Linked DNA regions of Homo sapiens. The protein of the gene in region 1 purifies or fractionates together with the protein of each later gene. This does not show direct contact. Each region holds a gene or a part of one and is shown in the gene's direction. Other genes may lie near its edges. The genes, in order: THUMPD2 and SPDL1.

The links.
Region 2: the proteins of THUMPD2 (region 1) and SPDL1 purify together in Homo sapiens (affinity purification with mass spectrometry; 2 studies listed by BioGRID and IntAct, with this or other methods). This does not show direct contact.

What each region holds. Positions count from the first base shown.
Region 1 is NC_000002.12:39,753,658-39,764,327, reverse strand, and holds part of THUMPD2 (U6 snRNA (guanine-N(2))-methyltransferase THUMPD2), read left to right. Parts: intron 1-2,909; coding exon 2,910-2,997; intron 2,998-6,959; exon of another isoform or gene 6,960-7,080; intron 7,081-8,367; coding exon 8,368-8,439; intron 8,440-8,918; coding exon 8,919-9,033; exon of another isoform or gene 9,034-10,670. UniProt on the Homo sapiens protein: Catalytic subunit of the THUMPD2-TRM112 methyltransferase complex, that specifically mediates the S-adenosyl-L-methionine-dependent N(2)-methylation of guanosine nucleotides, most probably at position 72 (m2G72), in the U6snRNA of the major spliceosome.
Region 2 is NC_000005.10:169,584,340-169,593,819, forward strand, and holds part of SPDL1 (protein Spindly), read left to right. Parts: intron 1-2,859; exon of another isoform or gene 2,860-3,033; intron 3,034-4,033; exon of another isoform or gene 4,034-4,054; 5' UTR 4,055-4,077; coding exon 4,078-4,236; intron 4,237-4,259; exon of another isoform or gene 4,260-6,490; intron 6,491-6,708; coding exon 6,709-6,885; intron 6,886-9,014; coding exon 9,015-9,209; intron 9,210-9,480. UniProt on the Homo sapiens protein: Required for the localization of dynein and dynactin to the mitotic kintochore.

The sequences.
Region 1 (10,670 bases):
AAAATAATAGTACCTACTTTATAGCTTCGTCCTTGGGATTAAATGAGATAACCCACGTGAAAATCTTTCCTGCTGTTTCTAGGATACAGTAAGCATTGAATAAATTTCAACTTTTGAAACAGTTCAATCCAGTGTTAGCACAGATCTGTGATAAATGCTTGATTAGAGTTAGGAAAGAGAAACTAACTCTAATTACGGACCTGTGAGCAGAAAGATAAAGGATTGTCCCTAAGAGGAGACTTGAAAGCAATAAGAAAGTGTATGCCGCATGGAGAAGAGAAGGAAAGGGTATTACAGGCAAGGAATCTCTGTGCAAAGGCACAAGGTATAAGGAAGCTTGATTTACATGGAGGATGGCAGGTAGTTTCAGTGTAGTTGGGACATAGAGAAAGTGGTAGAAAATTAGAAACAAGCCATGAAGTGCCTTGTTTAAGTATGTATAAGGAAGTTTGATTTACATGGGGGATGGCAGGTAGTTTCAGTATAAATGGGACATAGAGAAAGTGGTAGAAAATTAGAAACAAGCCATGAAGTGCCTTGTAAATATGTTAAACAGCTTGGATGTTATCCTTAAAGCAATAAGAATTTGAAGCAGAAGAGTGATGTGATCAGATTTGTGATTTCAAAAAAATTACCAAGAAAATTATATTTTTAAATGAAAGGGAAATAAAAAGAGAGAAGGAGAGGATTTAAACTCTTGGAGGTAACAAAAAGGCCATGAAATCAAAAAATAGTTAAGGAGTCTAGAATAATTTCAGATTTCTGATTTGAACAATTAGTAAATACTGGTATTAGTCACTGAGATACAAAATGTAGGGAAAGAAAACAGTGTATTCAGTGAAAAATGTCCAAGTAGATATTTGAAGTTACAGATCTAGAGTTCAGGTGACAAGTGTAGACTGAAGAGGTAGAGTATGGTACCCAATATATGGATAGTACGTGGCACAAGAAAATGAAGAAATGTATCAATATATGAAATCCAGGATAGTGTATTCAGTTTATACCTGTTGACTTTGCACTACTTATCTTCCACATAAAAATGTTCAAGCACATATTTGAAGATAAAGATCTGGGGTTCAGGTAACAAGTCTAGGCTAGAGATATAGATTAGGACGTCTTTGTCTTGGTGGTACAAGGTGTACAAGAGAAAAAAAAATGCACACATGCAGAGAAGAGGATCAAAAACCACATTTATTTTTGAACCGTGTACATTAGCTAGGTTCTCTGAAAGTAAAGCATTATTTTTATTTTCAAGGAGTTTATTTCTGAACGTGCCTTCTTCTGAATAATTTTGTTATACTGATATAATGGGGCCCTTTTGTTGAAGTAATGAGATAATTTTGCCCAGGTTTAAGCAAAATGTGAACATTCACTTTTGTCAAATATTAATAGAATTATGTCCCACAAAAACTTCTATTAGCAGAAATATATACATAGTTTTTGAAACTTTGAAAGGTTCCATATAAATTCCTGCTGCTTAGAAGAGCATTTTTTCATATATATGGACAAAGCTGGTTTCCCATACTGCGTCTCCCTTTTTGGTATCTAGAATGCAAACTCTGTTTTATAGTTTTGGCATCTAGAATGCAAACTGTGTTTTATAACTTTGGTATCTAGAGTGCAAACTGTTTTATAGCAAGATAATTGCTAAGCTTACCCCGTAGAAGCAAAATTCACTGGCCAAAATATTTTATAGTGTTTCTACCTGCCAGTTTACATCCCTCATTCCAAATGTATATATACAGTACTGTTTACAATGTGAATTGTTGTTTCTTGAAAAAACTTTATTAAAAAGCCAAACTCCCATGGGTTTGCCATGTAGAACTTCCTCATTATAATAGCAAGTATACAATTACACTGTTTTATTTTAAAGGGGTATATCATTTAGTTCTAAGATTTTAAGAGGCTTGCAATAAATACAAAAACAGGATAAGTTAAAGTCAAAGAAAGATGAGAGGCAAAATGGTGAAAGAAAGAAATGTTTAATATTCACATACCTAGAATTCTGTTGAACAACCTTAAGGAGGGTTTGAAGAAAATCATGGCTTTCCGTAATGTTCGTAGAAGACCTCTTTTGCTGGTTTTGGAAGAAGCCAACCCCAAGACAAACCCACACAAATTCTTGACATCATGTCTTCGTACCTTACCAACAAATTGTAGAAGTGAACTAGAAAAGCTTGGAAAGTTGTAATTTCCAAGGAGATTCTGCTTGTTCATTGCATTAGAAAGACAGAAATAATAGATGACATTTTGAAAATTTCTATCAAATCTGGAAACATTGATGTGATAGTGGCATTGATGAGGTGGAGGATAAAGTGTGAACTGATGCTTTTTGGAGACCAGTGAACTCATTTGGGAGATGTCTGCTTTGGCCCATCATCCAGTAAATTATTTTAGACAATGCAATGTCATGCTTCATTTCATCTTTTGGGAAAGATGCAAATAACCAAAAAACAAACCTACAAAAGGGACTTTTTATAGAAAACAGATTTTAAGGGTTAGCATCCCTTCAGTTCTACTTCCCATACTACATTTATATCACAAAATAGTACATTCCCCTTCATGACTTCAAATAGCAAAAAAAGGTCTACTCTGTATGGGAAGACAGGGAAGTATAAGAAAGATTTTCCTCATGTGTAATTACATTTTTATACATTAAATACGTGAGAGTGTAAATTTCAGTTGTCTAAAAATTTACCTTTCTGAAATTCAACACTGGCTGGGTAGACAAGGTGCCCATTAGAGAAGCAATTTTTGTAATAAGACTGAAACATTGTCTAACTTAGGGAATACTTTAGTGTATGTTGGATGAATATGTTTAAATGATTCTCAGATTTGGACAGGTAAATCATTTTTATATCTTGTTGTTCAATGTGTAATAATATATAATCAGATTCTATCCTTTGTAGGGTTTCCCTAGCCAGCAGAGCTTACATCAAGACAGCTGGACTGCGATCTACAATAGCGTGGGCAATGGCATCTCTGGCTGACATTAAGGTAAGAAAAATGTTTTCCTTCCTGTTAATAGCAAGGTTCTTTTCATAATTAACTTATACAGTCTCTTATTGATGGATATTTATGTTACTTGCTTTTTCTTTTCTTGACGCTTTTTCTTTAACTTCTTTTCTTTTTGCCATTGTACTTACAAACTGCTGCAGTAATGCTTTTATATATTATTGAACTTCTGAGAGTATTTTGGCTCTGAAAAAGCTGAGTCAAAAGTTAGCTACATTTCATTATTTCTAATGTTTTGTGTCACAGTTAGAAAATGTGGCCTGTAAAACCTCCTATTCTTAAAGTTTTTGTCTGTGACCAAGATCTTGGTCAATTTTTGTAAATGTTCTATGGACATAAGATGACTTTATCTTCTAGTGAAGAAATGTTCTCCATTATTTTTACTTACTGTGTGTTTCACTGCTCCATTTTGAAAGAAGTTTTTGAAATCTCATATTGTATTTTTTTAAGTTTTTGCATTTTTATGAGTTGTTGAATTATTCAGCTGTCATGTGGCTTGGTATATACATGTTCATGACTATCAATACATCATTGTGAAGTGTGCCTTTTTGTTACTTAAGTCCTCTTTATCTTGGTTAAGTTTAAATTTAAGTCTCACTGTCTTACTAATATTTTCACTCCTTTTTGTTTGCATCAGCCTAGTATTTCTTTGCCACTGCTTTTTTTTCAACTTTACATATTTTTTACAAACACATAGCTATTTTTACTCCACTCTGATGGTCTCTCTTTCAGTGAGAGAATTCAGTAAATGTTGTGACAGATAGACTTGATTATATTCTTCCTGTTTTTATTCTGTTCATAACTTCTCACACTTTGTTTCCTTCTCTTATTTTCGCTAGTTTGACCAAGTTACTTGCTAATCATTTCATTGTTCTCTTTGTGGTTAGAGATTTTACTTCATTGTTCTATTCCATTACAGTCCTTTTCCCAGCTCTCTTAACTAAATATATATGACTCTACTCTTAATTTAAAACAGAACATCAACTACTCCCTCTGCCAAGACACACCGTTTTTACCAAGGCACTCCAATTTTCCCCAACTTCCCCCTCTTCCCTGTCATAAGATGAGACCTTTAGAGTACTTTTTTCTCTTCTCCTCTCTACAGTGAGACCTTTGAACATTTTTACCCCTTTCTCTCCCAAGCCCCAACTACTGGAGAAGCTAAGTTATTTATTATGTACCAGAACTTTCCTTGAGTATGCTCTTGGGTTTCAAAAGTTCTTAGCACTTACACAGCCTATTCTTAGTCATTAGATAGAATTCCACGTAATACACACATATTTTTATATACACACACACTAAGATACATTACAAGGTTTATTGCTTTTTGCCATTTCTCTTCTTCTCTTTGTCTTGCCCTGTTTGAGGCCTCTGCTCTGGTTTACTTATTGCTTGGGTAAAGTCTTGTCTTAGGTATTTTCCTCAAATGTGGTATTTAAACGATATACTGTCTGAATTCTTTGTATCTTCAAATTTCTTCCTGTTATCCTGGGTATCTCTATCTTGGCTGGGTATAGGATTCCTGAATTGCAGTTCTTTTCTCTCAGAGGTCTGTAGATGCTGTTCCATTGTCATTTAGCTTCCGGTGACACAGATGAGCAGACCATGCCAGTGGGATTTTTTCTTTTCCTTTATAACTACTTTGTTCCTTCTTTTTGGAAACTTGTAAGGTGTTTCTCTTTAATCTTAAAGCCAAGGAATGTCACCAGAACATGCTTATGTATATGTCTTTTCTATTTAGCCCAGACCTTGTTGAGTCTTAGATTCTGGCCATCACTTTCTGGGTGGGAAGCTTTGGGCGGAATACTTAAGATCTTTGTGCCTCAGTTTCTCATTTGCAAGATGAAAAGAGTAGTAATATCTCATGGGATCATGACAAGATTAAATGAATTAGCATTAATAAAATGATTAGAACAGTGCCTAACATACAGAAAGTGTCTAAGTATTAGCTGCCATTTTGGTAATAATAAATAATTATACCAAAATTGTAGTTAATAACTAGAACTATAATTACTATTTCAAATATATAATTATAAAAATTATTATTTATTTTTACTTCTCCGGCCTAAGCACTTTTTCTTCCATTATTTAATTATTGCCTCAACTATTTAGTGAATTTAACTTTAAACTACTCTCTTTTTCCTACTTCTGAAATTCCTATTATGAACATGTTAAGCTTCCTGGCTCTATCCTCCAAGTCTCCTATCCTTTTGACATGATTTCCCTCTCTTTATATTTTGGCCCTGCATTTTTAGTTATTCTTGAACATTATCTTCCAAATTACAAGAGTCACAGAGACATGCTCTATTTTAATTTATTTATATTTTTAGCTTAAAAAAATCCTGACTTTTTAGCTTCAAAAGGTATGTGTGTCACATTTGAGTATCTCTGAAAGCTCTTCTTTTATTCAAATATTGATCTGTGTTCTCCAGTAATTAGTAATTCTATTTTACTGGGTGTGTGTTCCGATTATTCTGCCTATTTACTCTAAAACTACTGAGGGACCTCCTCCTTTTTTTTTTTTTTTAGATGTGCCATTGGTTTTTGTTTGTTTTTGTGTTTTGTTTTAGCTCACTAGGACTAAAATGTGACTGTTAAGTATTTTAAATGGCCAGAATCCTATAAATGGTAAAAGGCAAATGGATCTCTGGCACCCCAGGCTCAGCAGTGTAAAGAGAATCTGTCAGTCCTGCTGAGATACCTGGAGGAAGCTTCTCTATTCACTGACCTCTCTTTGAGTCCATAGATCTCTGAAGACCAAGCTCTTCCCTAATTCCACTGATTCTCCCCTCTGGGTTCCACTGCTGTTCTCTAATCACTACCCAACCCACAGCAGGGAGGCCCCACACATGTTCCTTTTTCTGGGACTGTGACAGAGCCTAGGGCTTCTCTTAGCGCCAGTTGCCTCTAGGTCTGAGCATCACTTGGCTCAGCAGAAGCAAAAAGCTTAGAGTTGAGAGTGGAGGAGGGAGCCTCTTTCAGATTACCAGGTACCCAGAACCCATGATTTTCTCTTTTTTTGTTTGATTTAAATGTTTAGTTCAGATTTTTTTAGTATAAAGAAAGAGGTATGGTTAATTTTTTCCCAAACTGCCAGTGGTTTCACCAGAGTTTGTATTTAAATATAAATTTATATAATCACCTACACATTTGAAATGTTACCTTTGTTTTAATATAAACATGTTTTTCAGAAAAGTCAAAAGTAAATGATCAAAAATATACAAAGATAATGCTTGATAAAACTTTTCCTTACTGTGTATTTGCCCTGGGACTACAAAAAGTAAGAAATGTCTCTCCAAATGTGACCACTGGCAAAGGAGGTCTGTTAAAGAACCTAGGAAATGGCATAGTAGAGTTCTTTTGGAGGGAATGTGGTAGTGACCCACAATCTAAGTGACCCCAGTATCCAACCTGATCCATTTCCCTCTTTGGAGCTTGGTACCCAGAGCAGTACACAGACAGCTCAGCCTTGGGTAAGGCCAGTGCCACTAAAAATGAAATTTAAAAATGGGATGTTTGTTATTTATCATGTTTACTATAAACTGTTCTCCTTCCTACATATCATAACAAGGAAAATCAAGTTCTATAAATCTTAATTGTTGTTGTAAGTATACAGAAATACATCTCTACCTCAGCCTGTGTCTACAAGTGTCATGGCAAGAAAAGGTCCTAAGGTAAAGTAAAGCCATCTAAAGATACTTCAGGTCAGATTATGTCATTGAACACAGACCATGGGAGAGAAGGAGCACAGCGTATGGCACATTTGAGATCCTAATAAAAATGGGTTCTCATGCTATTAACAATTTTCAACAAAATTTGCATTTAAATTTTTCCTTCTGCTCCTTACTGCCCCTTCATGGGGGATTTGTGTGATATTCTCTTTAAAATTTAGTACCAGGGGAAGGCTTCTGTCTCTTGAAGAACATTTTGTTTCTTTCCATTAGGTACCATATGGCTCTGACTGAAACCTGGCTGTGCACTGAGGACTCTGCTTCCTCTGTAGACATATCAAGTGGTGGATGTCTTTTCTCCCCTATCTCGAGCACGACTGGGCCTGACAGTGGGGTACGTTCCTGCTTGCTCCTCCTTGCCCCTTCTAGACAATTGTTTTCTCCCGTCTGCCCAGAACCTCATAGTGCCTTTGAAGCACATGCCATCAGATCACCCCAGTCAGAGTTCTCTCCCTCTCATTCCTGTAAGAGTACAGACCATTATCCCGTCATGATTCTTTGGTCTCTAACCACTCAGTAACCTGCCTCTTCATTTCTTGGCTTCCCTATTCATCTGCTGTAGTCACATCCTAGACCTTGTCATACCCAGAAGGGTATCTCTTCCAAAAATCTCAGTTTCTTTTTTTTTTTCTCCAATACCATTTATTATTATTATTATTATTATTATTATTACATTTTAGCTTGCATTTACTAAGTGTCATGGAAATATTATACTCAGAGTAACAGAGCTCCGGAGAAAGACCATTAACTAAGAAAGAACAGTTTCACTTTCTTAGCATGTCAACTTCTAGTTAGCCTGCTTGCCTCCGCACCACAGATGCTTGTCTTCTTGTGATTGTTACCGTATAATTGTCAAGCCAAAGCTTGAATTTACACGTGGCATCGGCTTGGTATTGATAATTTGTATTCAGGAATCTTGTTCTTAACCACCTCCTCTTTCCTGTTCACTTCCTCTGCTACCCGAACACAAATCTTTAACCCCACGGGGCCCTCCAGTCATTTGACCAGACCCGTGTTCCTTACCACCTGTGCTCATCCCTCCTTCACAGCTTGTATTTTAAAAAGTTCGATCATTATAGTCATTTCCTTGCCATTTTTTTTTTTTTTTTGAGATGGAGTCTCGCTCTGTCGCCCAGGCTGGAGTGCAGGGGCGCGATCTCTGCTCATTGCAAGCTCTGCCTCCCAGGTTCACGCCATTCTCAGGCTCTCTTCCTTCTTATTTGACTTAAATAATAGAATCACAAGAGAACTTCTGCATGTTCTCCTCACCAAGTCTACCAGCATACCAGAATCTATGCCCACATACTCTGCCTTATTGTCATTACAATAAGGGAGCTGTCCTTGTTCCACACTAATACTTGTGTGCTGGATTCCATTGCCTCTTGTAGACTTAGGGATTTTTCCTTCTACTGGGTCATCCCCATCAGCATGTACACCTGCTGAAATATCTTTCAACTTAAAAAAATAAAAACCCTCCCCTGAACCCATCTGTCCCTTCAGCCACCACCCCTTTAAAATGTAATCTTTCCTCTTGAAATATTGATTCCTCAAGTTTTAGGTTTCTTTTATAGTACGTACTATGGTAGTCTTAATAATACCAAATTAATATTTCTGTCTGCAGGCTGGTGCATTTGTTTTAGATCCAATGTGTGGACTTGGAACAATACTTTTGGAAGCTGCTAAAGAATGGCCAGTAAGTTCTAAAGTTTGGTAAAGCAAGCAATTTATCTACTTTAATCAGTATATGTAGTATAATCACCAATTATTTACAAGTAGAATGTCTATTTGGGGATTATTTTTAATTATATGAGTTATTATTTACTCAAAATAGATGATGAGGGACTAATGAAATTGCTATGTTGTTTCTTTAAATACTATGATAAATTTAGGAAAATATGAGAGAATTCTAATCATTAGTCATGACCTAGATTATACTAATCCTCAAATTCTTTAGACACTTGTCATTGTAAATGTTAACAGATTTTTAAAATTTTAACAAAAACTTTACATTTTTTGCTACTATGATTTTAAAAGAATACCCTAAATGTGTTTTGACCTGAATTTAAAATCTACTAATTTCACTTGTCATTTGAGAAAATGCAAGTCGATTTTCTTAACTACATGAAATATGTAATAATTTTATTTATGCTTAAAATATTTATTTCCCCATAGGATGTGTATTATGTAGGTGCTGATGTCAGCGACTCACAGTTACTAGGTACTTGGGACAATCTGAAAGCTGCAGGCCTTGAGGATAAAATTGAATTACTTAAAATCTCTGTTATAGGTAAGATACTAAAAATGCAAAACAATTGAGAAAAGGAACAATGTAAATATATTTAGAATCATAATATAAAACAAGTCTCACTATGTAAAGGTTGGTTTTACCCTTTAATATATCTGTGGGACTAATACTCAGTTTACTTCTAATAGTCTAACCTTTTTATTTTCAAAGTGTTCATAATTGGGAAGCAACAATTCTATAGTTTTCGTAAGCATGTAAAGCATGACTTCTTAAAATGTGTTTGTTAAAAAAAGAAAAAAAAAGTGTTGCATCTGAACCATTTCTCGTATCAGAACCAGTGATCGTTTAAAATAGCCATAAAGAAAGCAGTGTAATAATAATTCTTTGAATTTCTTTTGAATAAATAATATGAAATGTTCTGAATTATCTTACTGTCTTGCCTCACATTAGACAGTATCCGTGAGATACACAGGAGTAAGCTAACCACCCATCCCAATTTGCTAAACCAGGACTTTTAGTGCTAAAATCAGCAAAGTCTGGAGTAAACCAGGACAGTTGGCCACCCTGTGAGGTAGAGGGAAAACAGTACCCTGTTTAATGAAGGGGAATCAGCAGTGACACACATAACTAGGAATCAAGTCTATTGAGGCCAATCAAAATAATATTTTCCTGAGATCCCTGGCGTTTAGACAATTTTTAAAAACTATTCCTTGTTTTTTTCTTATTCCCCCAGTATATGTCTCTCCCTTAAATAATGAGTGAATTTAATTCCCAGGTAAGAACATTGTATTCTGTTGACAGTGATAGGTAGTAGATAGGTCCCAGTATCAGACCTATAATCAGGAGGAATAAAATACGTTTAAGAAATTTTATTGTAGTGGAAAAGTAGTAAAGATGAGTATCAACAGAAGAAAATACTAGGATAACTTGCATAAAAGCATAATAAAGCATCCCCAAAGAAGAAATTGTCTTGTTGATTGAGATCTCATAGTTGTTTGCTGCCAGTGACTTTTATTTTTAAGCCTTTCTGCCAAGGTTTTTAATAGGACTCTGTGCAGGAGACACAAGTTTGTAGAGCAAACTAAGGGGTGACTAGACTGCAAGCTTTCATGATCCCTAATTTCTTTAAGAATGCTATTTCTTTGAAACCTTTAAGAAAACTGAAATTGGTTCCTAAATTGTTCCAGAGCAGTGAGTTTTCAATCCCTTTACATTCTCCAAAGCACCTTGTAGGCATGAAGGAGGGAGTACTGAGTTGGCCATTGGACCTCTGTTGCACTCCCAGCTTCACTTTTATGTATTTTCACTTTAGGGGGCATTTTCTAAAAGATTTCATTTAAAAAACAGTCAGAAGTGCTCCACTGTTTGTGTGTGTGTGCTTTTTAAAGGTTCTCTGTGGTACCAGGTAACTGCATAAATCTTAGTTTTGAAAGGATTCCTCTTAGACTTTAGTGAGGGAAGGACAGTAACAGAGAGACTAGAAAGAGACTGTTGCAACTCTAGTTATAATCCAGGTAAGAAATGACAGTGGCCTGGCCCAAGGTGGTATTCAAGGAGATGTCGAGAGAAGGTCAGATATACATCTGGCAGACAGAGCCAACAGAATTTGTTGTCAGATTGGATGTGGACTATGAGAGAGAGAACATTCTAAGCTTTCTGGCTTGAGCAGCTAGAGGATT
Region 2 (9,480 bases), on another chromosome or scaffold:
TTTACTTTTTAAATCATGATGGCTCCTAGAACATTTAAAATCACGTACATGACTCGCGTTATATTTCTGCTGGACAGCACTGCCCCAGCCGTGTGTCAGATTCTACCCTAATTGCTTTTCATTCGTTATCTCATTTAATCCTTTCAGTAACCGATTAGGTGGGTGTTATTGTGCTTGTTTTTATAGATGATTAAACCAGAAATTAAATAACTTGTCCAAGTTCATGCAGCCAGTGAGTAGTGGAGGCGGGGTAAGAACTCAGGCAGTTTGATTCCCAGAGTTTCCTGTGTCCCAAATGCTTTGTGTGTGCTATATTTTTGAGAAGCAGGACAGGAAAAATGGTTGCAGCACCATGGTTTCTAGGTAGATTCTAGTTCCCATCACACTTCGCGTCTTAACTTGCGGGTAACCCTAAGCAAGTTACTTAAAACTTTCTATGCCTCAGCTTGCATGTGTAAAATGAGGGAAATACCTTCAACCTCTTGAAGTTGTTGAGAAGATTGAATAAGAATGTGTATAAAGCGGCCGGGTGCGGTGGCTCACGCCTGTAATCCCAGCTACTCGGGAGGCTGAGGCAGGAGAATGGCGTGAACCCGGGAAGCGGAGCTTGCAGTGAGCCGAGATTGCGCCACTGCAGTCCGCAGTCTGGCCTGGGCGACAGAGCGAGACTCCGTCTCAAAAAAAAAAAAAAGAATGTGTATAAAGCACCAAGCACAATGTCTGTCACACATTAGTAGTTTTTAATCAACCACGGCTATCTCTCTTTGTAGATTGATAGGTTAACTCTTTCTCATCCATTAGACCTCTGCTGAAAAGTTACTTCCTCAGGAAAATTTTTTTGTCCATGTTCCCTTCTACGCGCTGCCCCCCAGATTAGGACAGCTCCCCCTTGTTACAGGCTCAGGTAGCATACATCTGTCTCTCTTGCACTTATCATACTTGTAACTTGATAGTTCAATTACTTGATTTAATGTCTTTTACTAATAGACTAGGATTCAAGAAGACAGGAATATTGTTTTAGGTTGCCATTGTGTTGTCAACACTAGCACAATGTCTCACACAATAAGAATTCCAGCAAATTTTTTGAATAAACTAAAGCAAATTTTTTTTGGCTTCTCTGGATATGCCTGGCTGGAATGTCTTGAGGTTAACCCTATTTTTATTTTGGTAGTTGAGATGACAGTATTTACTTAACTCAAGCTCATCAAGATAATTAGATGAGATAATATATTTGAAGCAGTTAGCATGGCAAATGGTAAATCCTCAACGAATGTAAGTTATTGTGAACAGTACAACATTTAGTTGGCTGGCCGTATCATGTACAGGCTTTGAAAAGGTCTTGCATTTTAGAGCAGTGACTGCCAAGCTGGGATTACCTAGAACACCTTTTTTTCTCTCTTAAACCCTGTATCTCTTCCCTTGTCTTCATTCTCAGTTAAAGACCTTGCTTCCTAATTCATTGATAAATTGAAGCAGTTAAAAGGTTACTTACACAGACTTCCACCACTGTACCTGCTTATCAGCATCTAAACTCATATACTTTGCTTAAATGAAATATCCATGCTTCTATTAAAACCAGTCTCTACATTAAACTTCATCCTGTTTATTCAGGGACATCACTAGCAATTCTCCAGTGTCTTCTAGATCATCAGTTTTTCTTCTCTCCTGGATTTATCCCATGACCTACAAACACTGTTATTTTTTTCCATCTTAAAAATAAAAAAACTTGTCCCTACTTCCTCTCCAACTGCTGCTCCGTTTATCCGTTATCCTTTGCAGCAAACCTGTGCTTGCTATCTTTATCTCCTACCATTCTCTCTTGAAGGCATTCTAGTTAGGCTTTCACCCCCACCTGGATATCAAAACTGTTCTTGTCACCAGAGACCTCCAGGAATTCAAGTTCAATGGCCAGTTCTCTGCTCTCACCTTAATTGCCTTAGCAGCAGCATCTGGCATGATTGATTACTCCCACCTCCTTAATACACTGTTTATTGCCTTCCAGGACAACACATACTCCTGGTTTTCCTTCTACCTCACTGGTCACTCCTGATTCTCCGCTGTCTTCTTCCCTACCTCATAACAGGGTTCAGTCGTTGGTCCATTTCTCTTTAAATACTTTTATCCTCTATAGACTGATAATTCTCAAATTTGCATATCCAGCCAAGATTCCTCTTCTCATATATCCAATTGCCTACTTGACATAGTTCATGTTCAAAACTCAAATTCCTGATTTTATTTCCAAAACATTATTTACATCAGTGCTTCAGCTGATGGCAATTCCATTTTACTAGGTGCTCAGGCCAGAAGACTTGGAGGCATTTTTTACTTTTCCCTTTTTCACACATCCCAAATTATATCTTTCAGAAAATCATATTGACCTTACCTTCAAAACCTTCAAAATCTGGCCATTTCTCACAGCCTCCTATGCTGCCACCCTAGTCTGAGCCATTTCACATGGTCTCTGCTTCCAGCCTTGTTCCCCTTCTAAACTAGTCAACATAGCAGCCAAAATGATTCTTTTAAATTATATCAGATCCTCTACTCCAGACTTTGGAATGACTTCCCATGTCACCCAAAGTAGGAGCCAAAGTCCTTATAATGGCCTGATTTGCCCACTCTCTACTATCTCTTAGCCAAATTTCACTCCCTGGGCTTCTTCCTGCCTTAAGGATTCCCCTCTTGCTGGAACATTCTTCTTCTAAATAGCTGCCTGGCTGATTCTCTCATCTTCTGCCTCCTGGTTACATCACCTGTCCCTTCTTCCCAGATTCTTATTCTGTTCTATTTTTTCTCATCTCCCCTTTCTAATTTATTAATATTCTGTTACTTACTGTTTATCTTCCCCTCCTGGAATGTAAGTTTCATGAGGGAGGAGCTTTTTTTTCGTCCATTTTGTTCCCTAATGAATCTGAACTGCCCAGAATGGAACCTAGTATATAAGGCATTCAAGAAATACTCGTTCAGTGAATGACTACATTGACTTGAGACATGGGGGAACATCTTGCAATGACCTGGTGCCCTTTGAAGGCAAAGGTGAGTTTGAGTCTCGCTTAGGAGGCTGGGACCAAATAGTAAAGGATAATTAGTAAGGTTGATTAAAGTGGAATGTTTCTATATATAATGTTTAAGTCTTTGTTTATAAATCTAGAATGAAAGCAACATCCTTTAATTCTTATGGATATGGTTTCTATTTTTGCATACTTTTATGAATAACTAGAAAAATACTAGTGAATCTCTTTCCAGGAAAGCAGATTTAATATATTCAGGAAGTTAACACTGTTGTGAAAAATTACAGACATGATATTTCTTACTTTACCTTATGAGCCTTATTCACAGCTGCCTTTTTATATTTTATGTGTTTATAGTACCCAGACCTTCCTTTTCTGGTGGTATTATTGTTATTATCATTATTATTTCTCAAGACAGTGTCTTGCTCTGTCAGTGCCATGATCATAACTCACTGAAGCCTCTAACTCCATCAATTTTCCTTCCTTAGCCTCCCAAGTAGCTAGGACTACGGGGGCTTGCCACCATCCCCACCTTATTTCTATTGATTGATTGATTGAGATGGAGTCTTGCTATGTTGTTCAGGCTGGTCTCGAATTCCTGGCCTCAAGTAATCCTCCCCAGTTGCTGGGATTACAAGCATGAGCCACCATACCTGCTACTATGAGGTTTCTTGATTACTTTTTTGTTATTCCCTTAATTTTGATTATATGGATAGTGGTCCAATTATGAGACCAAACTTACCTTAACATATTGGAAGCTTAGCATACAACAACTGAACAGTTTTCTGATGGTGAACTGTTTAGAAGCAAAATTAAATGTATTCTATTCCACTCTTTAATTTTTGATCCCAAATCAGTAACAGAATTGTCAGAACAGTTCTTGCTCTTGGAACAAGAATGCAAATTTGACTACTTATTAGTCAGGAAGAAAATTTTAATGTTTTTATACGACAGTAGTATTGAGTAGATATGTTTCTTCTGTTATTGATATTATTGCATGGAGTTTTTTGTATAAGCTTAAGTAGTTTTATTTCCTCTATTTACAGTTGGCTAAAAAAAAGAAAAGAACATGGAGGCAGATATAATCACAAATCTTCGATGCAGGCTCAAAGAGGCTGAAGAAGAGCGACTAAAAGCTGCACAGTATGGTTTACAACTAGTAGAGAGTCAAAATGAATTACAGAATCAATTGGATAAATGTCGTAATGAAATGATGACCATGACTGAGGTAGGACTCTGGACTCCTCTGTCTGCAAGAGTGTGCTTAGCTATTGAAGATTTGTCCTGTTTAGCAATTAATAGTAGTAGTAGTTTATTCTTTTCTGAAGATTTTAGATCTAGTTCCCGCCCTGCCCCGTCCCTGTTAAAAAAGAATGAACTAAATGAATTCCTGTTATTCTTTCCACCCTAGTGTATTCAGAGTTTGAAAGATCAAGTTATCATTACTCTCTTTGCCACATTTACTACCAGATTTTGCTTTGTCTGCACACTTCCTAGAAGACCTCACTTGTTTTAGACCTCTAAACATCTAAGTGCCCCATGACACTACACCAAGCCCTTAGTTCCCCCATGAAATCTAGGTTTGTGTTCAACTGCCCACTAATAGACTTCTCAAACTTAACACAGACAGAAGAGTGGATTCCCTGTCCGTTAACCAAATATTCTTTTACGATTTTTTTTAGCTTATTTAGTAAATATAATAGCATTCAGTTTCTTGAACACCAAAAATCTTTATATACCAAAGATTTTTGGTATATTTTTGGTTTCTTTATATACCAAAAATCTAGAACTTTTAGTCAATATCTTCCCTTTATTTCTCACATTTCACTCATTAATAAGTTCTAAGAACTAGACTACAAAGCATGTATCTTTGCTACTGGCACTGTAGTCCAGATCACCATCATCACTCCTAGACAAGTATTGTAGCCTTCTGGCCGGGTTGCCTGCTTCCATTGTTGCCATTCATGCCATTCATTCTTCACTCAGCGTCTAAGTGGTCGTGGAATAACACACCAAAGGTCATGCCACAGCCCTGCTAAAAACCATACAACAGCTTCTGATTTTATTTACAACAAAATCTGAGCTCCATCCTTGGGTTTGTAGATCCCTATGTGACCTGACCCCTGCCAAGCTTCTGACCTCACCTCAAACTGCTTTGCCTTGTTCTTGACTATACTGGTCCTCCCTTATGGGCTTTACACCAGCTATTGCCTTTTTTTTTTTTTTGAGTTGTTTACCCCTCACTGCTCTTGGGTTGAGTCCTCAGATTTCAGCTTTCATTTAAATGTCACTTCAGCGGAGAGGTCAGCCCTTACTATGTAATGTAAAGTTGCCCTGATTCACTTTTTTTTTCTTTTTTCTTTTTTTTTTTTGAAACAGGGTCTCACTCTGTCGCCCAGGCTGGAGTGCAGTGGCGCAATCTTGGCTCACTGCATCCTCCACCTCCTGGGTTCAAGAGATTCTCCTACCTCAGCCTTCCGAGTAGCTCGGGGTTACAGATGTGTGCCACCACATCCGGCTAATTTTTGTGTTTTTAGTAGAGATGGGGTTTCACCATGTTGACCAGGCTGGTCTTGAACTCCTGGCTTCACGTAATCTGCCTGCCGAAGTGCTGGGATTACAGGCATGAGCCGTTGTGCCCGGCCCTGATTCCACTCTTAATTATCTGCATTGCTAATTATCTCTAGATTATAAACTCCATGAGAGAGGGAATTTTGTATGCCTTGTTCACTATCCTGAATGCCTGCCACACGATTATTTCTTAAAAGAATGAATGAATAAATCTGGGTAATTTAGCAAATGCTCAGTAACATATTTAAACTTGAATCTCAACATTGTAAATATGGCAGGTAAAAAATATCTGTAGCAGGTAAAAATAACTAGTGATGGCAACCTTTGTGTTTCTACATAGTACTGTTGTAAACCAAGAACTGAGTGCAAAGTCATAAAGGCAAAGTAAAGATTACAAATATCACTAATAGAAAATAAAACTGTTATACTTAATCATTTTGAGTCATAACTTGTCAAATTTCAGTGTTTAACAGTTAATACTCTTTGTCTTCCTTTAAAATAAAATGGTTTTTGAGGGGAATATTTTATCATTTTTTAAAGCCTCTTGAAGGAGTTCGTACTTGTAACATTTTTAATGTCTAAACTTCCCTGTGAGTAAGCAAAAGCCCTTTTAATTACTCCTTTTGTCTCAGCTCTGCATTCATTCTGATAGACCTTTTGTGACATTTCTCAGATGACTACATTCTGAAAGTAAAGGCTAATTCAGTATTTCTTTTTTTTCAACTATTATTACTACTACATTGTGTTCAGAGCTACAAGTAGAGCATCTCATTATCAAACTAATAATTCTCATGAGGAAAGCTTAAGTGCTGTTAAATCTTTTTTTGTTGTTAGCAGAGATTACTTGACTTGACGTGTTGACATACCATGGAGCACATTTTACTTCCTTGACAAGGCACAGAAGCAGTAAGGTATCCCTTGCATGGGTTTAACATAGTTTCGAAATACACCTCAGGGGTTTATTAAGACTGATTAACTACAAAGTTATTCCAGGTTTAACATGTCTTCGTTATTTGGAAAGCAGCAAATGCTTGAAATAAGAATGAAACAATTGAAGTTGAAAACTGATTGTATGTAATGGCTTTAGGCTATTTTTATGTAATTGAATTGTAATTGAATCTGTTTTCAGAGTTATGAACAAGAAAAATATACCCTTCAAAGAGAAGTTGAACTCAAGAGTCGAATGTTAGAAAGTTTGAGCTGCGAATGTGAAGCTATTAAACAACAACAAAAAATGCACCTGGAGAAATTGGAAGAACAACTAAGCAGAAGCCATGGACAGGAAGTGAATGAACTAAAAACTAAGGTTGGGATATCTGCGTATTTCAGCACAAAATATTCCATATTTATGCAGCCATCTGTAAACTTTAGATGATAAAGATTTTCTTAAGTGTCAGCTTTGCAAAATAGCCAAGATCTAAGTCTTCATTATCTTAATATTGGGGGTGGGAACACTGAGATACAAGAGTTTGTCTAAGGGACTTGTATAAATTATATCCTATTAATTAAATACAATTATTTAATTTTGGTTGCTGGATATTTGTGAAGGTTTAGTTTAGTGACTAGCATGGCCTCCTTGCTGATAGTGGGTACAGCAGCCCCTTGCAGAAAGCCTCGTCTCCTAGCCTTCCCTGCAGTCAGTGGTATGCTTTGTAATTCTGTAAAACAGACCAGTAGTTTCTTACTAGTTAATGTGCATTACAAATGACACTTTATAGTTTGTTTACTGAGGATAAACTAATACATGTGCTCCAGTTCTTACAATAATATTGTGGAAAGGTACCATTATCATTTCCATATACCAGATGAAAGAGCCAGTGTTTAGACAGACTGAGTAAATTGGACACAATTCAAGAACTAGAAATTCTCCATCTAGGTTTGAACTGAGGCTGTCTGACTCCAAAGGCTGTGTTACTGAATCACTACATAGTCTAACAGCATGTTACACTGGCTCCATTTCAAACATAAACGCAAGATAAATGATTGGTCAGTGGTTTTCCCTTTTCCCAGCTAGCCAGTGCTTTCAGGTTGCTTCTGAGGAATCCAGAACTTTTTATCATGGATCTGCTTTGTGTATAGTCTATACTCTGACTTTTCCAGACACTGTCTACCAAAACTTGCCTGACTTTTGTCCTCCTTTCTCAGAAGTCTGTTACCCAATTTTCAGCTTCTTGTATAGCAGCCTCTAAGATTTTTCTTTTTCTGTATACCACCTATACTATTACTTAATTTCTCATTGACTCTCTTTTAATGTTTACTGATTTTAAGAAACATCAATGAAAGTATTTTTTTTTCCTTTTTTTTTTTTTTTTTTTTGAGGCAGAGTCTCACACTGTCGCCCAGGCTGGAGTGCAGTGGCATGATCTCGGCTCACCTGCAACCTCTGCCTCCCGGGTTCAAACGATTCTCCTGCCTCAGGCTCCTAAGTGGCTGGGATTACAGGTGTGCGCCACCACGCCCAGCTAATTTTTGTATTTTAATAGAGACAGGGTTTCACCATGTTGGTCAGGCTGGTCTCTAACTCCTGACCTCGTGATCCGCCCACTTCAGCCTCGCAAAGTGCTGGGATTACAGGCCTGAGCCACTGCGCCTGGCCAAAATTACATATTTAAGCTTGCTTATTTTTTCCCAGTATACACTAAAACAAACATAGCTATCTAAATATACCTTCATGTAATATATAATCATCTTGCATACCACTCTGACAGATAATATCATCCAGCTTGTCTGAAACTAGTCGGATTTGAGGCCCTAATGACTGATAATGATGTGCTTTCTTCCCCCTCTGGTTGTTATTTTTATTTTTGCAATAGTTTTCATCACCTAAACAAAAAAGAGTAATAAAGGGAGTATTCAGGACTGAGGTAAGGCTAATTATAGAGATGGCTTTTTTTTTTTTTTTTTTTTTTGGTGGAGCAAAGAGTACATTAGTGAAATATTTTGTTTTACTGATTTTCTCAAATCACTTATGCCAAAATTTGGATTTTTTTAATACCTTTTCTTCTCTTATTTTTCACATTTAATTCATCAAGTTCTAAGAACTTGACCTACAAAACATCTATGACGCTACTGCCACTCCAATCCAGACCTTCATCATCTCTTTCCTGGACTACTGCTGTAGCCTTCTGACCAGGTTGCTTGCTTCCATTGTTTCTCTTCATGCCAGTCATTCTTCACACAGTAGCCAAGTGGTCCGCATCATAGTGCCTCCAGATTGCTTCTGAGGCATCCAGACCCACCCCGATTACTCATGGATTATTTCTATGTTTATTAAACAAGGTGTGTCACTAGCTGTTAAAAGATGCCTAACCTTGGGCAAATAGGAAACTCCAATAGTATCATCATTCAGTAAGTTTGGTTCAATCAGTTCAATCAGTGATTGTTTTTAGAAAGAAAATAACTTTCAATTTATGACTTTTTTTTTTTTGGCTTTAGATAGAAAAACTGAAAGTGGAATTAGATGAAGCCAGGCTTAGTGAAAAGCAGCTGAAGCACCAAGTAGATCATCAGAAGGAACTCCTCTCTTGTAAATCAGAGGAACTGCGCGTAATGTCTGAACGTGTGCAGGAAAGCATGTCTTCAGAGATGCTGGCTCTTCAAATTGAGCTGACAGAAATGGAGAGTATGAAGGTAATTTTTATGGCATGTGTTTCTCAGGGTTTTCTCTTTTTTTTTCTGGCATATTTTTACATGTTTTGGTAATAATTCTTAAGAGCTAGTTTGAAGGCTGAAACATTTTTTGACCTAACTTGCATCTAACTAATTAAAAAATGGGTTTTTTTTAGGTGGATGACTTCATTCATAATATAGCTTTAGACTATATGATTATGTAAGGCAGCCTTTCTCTTAGATTAATGAAACGTCTGGAAGAATTTAGAGGCATATACTCTGATCCCAGATT